2 separate regions of the Homo sapiens genome follow, and region 2 is linked to region 1. The links come from fine-mapping of genetic effects on gene expression. Tissue or cell type: whole blood. Region 1 holds a variant in brackets; the other region holds the start of a gene. All regions are shown on one strand. Distances are from middle to middle.

The links. PIP is the estimated chance that this variant, and not a neighbour inherited with it, causes the effect.
Region 2: it holds the start of GRN, and the variant in region 1 is fine-mapped to the expression of GRN in whole blood (TOPMed, PIP 0.96).

What each region holds. Positions count from the first base shown.
Region 1 is chr17:44,272,384-44,275,139 of GRCh38, reverse strand. It overlaps LOC105371790 (a long non-coding RNA gene), which reads left to right. Exons shown (of 4, transcript XR_934778.4): 3 at 745-862; 4 at 962-1,105. Among named protein-coding and RNA genes, the nearest start is that of SLC4A1, 5.6 kb to the right of the region's middle. The variant C/T (reference allele first, on the strand shown) is at 1,518.
Region 2 is chr17:44,343,905-44,346,404 of GRCh38, reverse strand. It overlaps GRN (granulin precursor), which reads right to left and starts at 1,103. Exons shown (of 13, transcript NM_002087.4): 1 at 1,071-1,103. RefSeq lists enhancers at 831-980, 2,132-2,500.

The sequences.
Region 1 (2,756 bases):
TTATTGGAAGTGGGGATTGGGAGTGAGGGAAAATTAAGAGTCAAGGAAGCAACTGGGTTTGGGGATTTGAGGAACCAAGTGGATGGAGAGGACTGGAGGAGGCTCAGGGTTTGTTTCTTTGCTTGCTTGTGTTTAGGGAAAGGATTCGAATAAAATAAGACTGTTAATGTATCACTTGTTTGACCTTTCTCAAATATTAGTTTTCTTTTCTTTTTGAGGCATGGTCTTGCCCTGTCACCCAGGCTGGAGGGCAGTGGCACTATCTTGGTTCACTGCAACCTCCACCGCTCAGGTTCAAGCAATTCTCGTGCCTCAGCTTCTCGAGTAGCTGGGATTACAGATGTGTGCCACCATGCCTGGCTAATTTTTGTATTTTTAGTGGAGATAGGGTTTCACCATGTTGACTATGCTGGTCTCGAACTCCTGACCTCAAGTGATCTGCCCGCCTTGACCTCCCAAAGTGCGGGGATTATAGGCATGAGCCACTGCATCCAGCCCAAATATTAGTTTTTTCACCTATACTTTTGGCAGTGGGGTAAGGGACAGAATTTTTTTTAATAGAGACAGGGTTTCACTGTGTTGCCCAGGTTGGTCTCAAACTCTCGGTCTCAAGTGATCCTCCTGCCTCAGCCTCCCAAAGTGCTGGAATTACAGGCATGTGCCACTGCACCCGGCAAAGGGACGGATTTTTGTATTGATTTCATTCAAGTCAACAAACTCATATAAACTATCAACTACCGGCAGAGCCCTGGTCAGGTTTAAGGACCTGAGTGAGGGTCCTTGTCCTTGGGAACATGATCTGTGGAGGAGACACACAGGACCATGGACCATCTCAGTAGGGAGCAGAGAGGCAATGACACAGGTAGGTGCTGGGCTGGGACCTGTCAATCTCCAGGGGTTGGAAGGTTGGCGGGAGAGAAGGAATTCACAGAGCTGGGAATGCAAACAATGAACCTTGAAGGTCAAAGCTTTGGTCCAGCAAGTTTGGAAAGGAAAGGCATCTCAGGACAAGGGAACAGTGCATGGAAAGATCCAGAAGCCAAGAGAACAGAGAACATTCAGAGAAAGGTGAGTGTCAAGACTCAGAGAGCTCACAGCCTGCCTTGAGCCCCTCAAGCAGATCCTCCTCCCAGGACACCCCCGCACACTGAACTCTCTGCAGAGCCAAGCTGACCCCACAGCTCTCCAAACCTGCCCTTGTTTTTGTTTTTTAAATTATTGAATTTATTTATTATTATTTTTTGAGATAGGGTCTTCCTCTGTTTTACAGGCTGGAGTGCGTGGTAGGATCTCAGCTCACTGCAACCTGGGCTCCGCCTCCTGGGCTCAAGTGATTGTCATGCCTCAGCCCTCTGAGGAGTTGGGATTACAGGCATGCGCCACCACACTCAGCAAATGTTTGTGTTTTTAGTAGAAACAGGGTTTCACCTTGTTGGCCAGGCTGCTCTCGATCTCCTGACCTCAAGTGATCTGCTTGCCTCAGCCTCCCAAAGTGCTGAGATTACAGGTGTGAGCCA[C/T]CAAAATAGTTATTTATTTTCTTTATTAGAGACAGGGTCTCACTCACTCAGGCAGGAGTGCAGTGGTGCCATCATAGCTCACTGCAGTCTTGAACTCCTGGACTCAAGCGATCTTCCCATCTCAGCCTCCCAGGTAGCTAGGGCTACAGGCCTGTGTCACCACACTTGGCTAAAAAGGTAACTTTTTTTTTTTTTACTTTTTGTAGAGATGGTGTCTTGCTATGTTGCTCAGGCTGGTCTTGAGAACTCCTGGCTTCAAGGAATTCTCCCACCTTGGCCTCCCAAAGTGCCGATTACAGGCCTGAGCCATCACACTGGCCCAAACCTGCCCTTTGACCTCCCTCCTCCTCCCATTTGGAGAAACCGCCCCCATCCTTCAAAGTCCTGCTGGAACTCCCACTTCCCCTCTTCCTCCTCCTCAGCTCTCAGGGGACCCTGCAGAACTCCCAGCGTGTATCTCTGGAAGGATGCTCAGGGTGAGTTATTTTTGCACAGATCTGGCCTGGCTGCCCCTAGACAGTAGAAACCGCCTTCCTCCCAGGACTCCCCAGGGCCCAGCCGAGGGTGCTGGTGATGAGGGTCACGGGGCACAGGGTTCTGAGGGTAGGGGGACTGGACTGGCTCAGCTCTGAGAGCCTTTCCAGTTCCAGCCCCATCCCCCAGCTCTCCCGCCTGATTCCCCGCACCTCCCCACTCCCTCACCAGGTGATAATGATGACTGGTCCATTCCTAACGTGTGTGCACCCTGCCCCACTTCCATCCACCCCCAGACTGCTCAGGGCTGCACCTCACAACTCTGGGCCCTCCACCAGCATGGTCTCCCTGGGGACCTCACACTTCCCGCATTACTTGTCCCTCCGGGCCCATCCCTTGTTTACATCCCTTATCCTCCCTCTGAGGTTTGTATACACTCCCTGCTGGACATGAACTCCTATCGCTGCGTGGTCCCTGCCCTGCTGCCTTGGCTCAGGCTGCCTGATACACGAGCCCCGTGGCTCCTTCTCCCGTTCACTACTCAGCCCCTTGCCTGCATCTAGAGAAGACTATTTTCAAGCTCTTTCCCACCTGTCATCCCATGTGGTCACAACAGTCCAGAGAGGAAAAGGAAGTCCAGAGAGAGGGTGTGGTCAGCTCAAGATCACACAGGGCTTCCAACCCGAGGAGGTCCTCTACAGCCCACATGTCCCAGCCGTGGGACACTTCCCTTTAATGCAAAATCCCAGGGGTCTGAGTCCCTAG
Region 2 (2,500 bases), 71 kb before region 1:
AGGAAATCTCACCCACCCAGTCACTCACATCCTCTCTGCTCCACCTGGCTTTCCTCAAGTGCCCCTCCCCTAACTCAGCATCCCCAAGAGGCCACCTCCTGGACAGATAAGGATGAAGTTCACTGGTCCTGGACAGTGGACCCTCTCCTCAGCCCCACAGCTCCCAGGCAAAGCACCTGCAGCTGGCACCGCCTGCTTCCTGGGTGTTCTCAGCAGGCTGTCCGCTGCCATGGCTTGCTGGGAAGGGGAGTCTGTCTGCACAGGAGTGTTCGGCTCCCTGGTGAATTACCTGTGCATGTGGCCCCTCCTGTTTACCCTAAATTGAGGGAGTATAGTGTATGCTTCTACTGAATACAAGCACTCGCATACAGAAACAGGGATGAGGAGGCGAGTCGCAGTCTCTCATGCCACCCTACACCGCCAAAACAGCCAGAGGGGACAGCAGCCTCTTCAAGACCCTAGCTCCGTTATCTTCCACTAGGTGGCACCCCCCAACTCCGAGTGCCAAGGGGAGAGGAAATTCCCAAAAGGGGAGCCAACCTAGCTGCAAATGAGCAGGAAAAAGTGGCTGGGAGAGGCGGAAGCTAGCTCGTCCCACCCGCAACAAGAGGAAGTAAGGAGGAGCCAGACCAGGTTCAGTCACCACTCCCAAGTCCCTACTACCTTCGAGAAGCCAAGGTCTCAGGTCTCGTTCCCAGGCCCTCGGAGCTCCCAGCCCAGGGTCGCGCGCCCCTCCGGCTCCAGGCCGCCGCGGGAACCACCCACCACCACCAGGAGAGGGGAAGAAGCCAGCACCTACCGACAGGGGTGGAGCTGGGTCAAGAATGGTGTGGTCCCTGCTTTGGGGGAATGCTGGGGAGGTAGAAAGCCCCTTCTAACGGGGCGTCACTGCAATTACTGCTTCCTCTTTCCCATAAAACTCCCCCTAGTGTATCAGAACCCCCAAGGAGTTTCAGTAAGCGGTTCTTCTGTTGTCTCCGGCTGAGACTCCAGGGGAACCTCAAGCTCACATGGCCCTGGCGGGCCCCTGGGCAGGAGCAGGCGAGAGGTCTGCGCGGCCGCTCTCCTACCTGCGTCCGACTCCGCGGTCCTTGGGCAGCAGCAACCGGGTAGCGCTCAGACTACAGACCCCAGCGCGATGACCCGCCTACCTCAGTTTCCATTGGCCAGGGATCAGGGCTACCCGCTCCCATTGGCTACTTATCAATATAGAGGTGGGGCCAGCCTGGAATGCTGTGTTTCTTTTCTACTCAAATCACTCTCCTCCCTGCTTCCTCTCGCCCCACACCCCATTTCTAGGGATCATGTGATTGGAGAATCATGTGACGTCGGGACAGCCTCAGCAGGGCAGCTGGTGCTCGTCGCCTTCCTTAACCCATCCTGCAGGCGCCTGGGGGAGTTTGCTAGAGATGATAGCGCGTGTCTGGGGCATTGACAGTGCGAGGGAGTGTTATGAATTGGGAATATTTGTGCTCGCCTTTCTATCCTTTTGTTTGTTTGTTCTGAGACGGAGTCTCACTCTGTCGCCAGGCTGGAGTGCAGTGGCACGATCTCGGCTCACTGCAACCTCTGCCTCCCGGGTTCAAGCGATTCTCCTGCCTCAGCCTCCCGAGTAGCTGGGACTACAGGCGCGCACCACCACGCCCAGCTAATTTTTGTATTTTTAGTAGAGACGGGGTTTCACCATGTTGGCCAGGATGGTCTCGATTTCTTGACCTCGTGATCCGCCCACCTCGGCCTCCCAAAGTGCTAAGATTACAGGCATGAGCCACCGCGCCCGGACTTGTGTGTTTGTTTTAGAGACAGGGTCTCGCTCAGTCGCCCAAGCTGATCATAGCTCACTGCGGCCTGCAACTCCTGCTCCCAAAGCGATTCTCCTACCGCAGCCCCCCAAGGCGCTGGGATTACAAATGTGAGCTACTGAGCTGGCTCGCTCCTATCCTATCCTGCCCTGTCTTGTCCTGTCCTGTCCTGCCCTATTCTGCCCTATTCTCCAAACTCGGTTGACATGCTAGGCAGGCCCCAGAGTGAGTTGAAGGATGGTTTCCAGGACAAAGATAAACAGCCCCAAAGCCCTTTCCTCAAGGTGCTCAGCAGGACAGGGAGCAGGGATTGGTGGGAGACAGTCTCAGGCTGAATCTAATTTAAGATACAAGGTTGTGCGCCAGTTGCCAGGTGTAGGGAGAGGAAGTAGATTGTCTCCAGGTGGGGAAGAAGAGATTTCATTCCACCTTAGGAGCATCTCCTTGAGCTGAGTCTGGGAAGATTTTAACTGGCAGGTGGAGGAGGAGGTGTTGGGAAGAGCCCTGGGAAACCAGATGGGAAGGGCAGGCTTGGCAGGGATTGAATGCCATGTTCAATGCCAGTGGGCTTCAGGAGCTGCTGGGTGCCTGGCACGGGCTGGGCTGTGGTGGGGGCTGTCGAAAGAGAAGTGGCTTCCTAGTCTCCAGATCGGCCCTGCCTTCGAGGAATTGATATGGGAGGGTGAGGAGAGAAAATG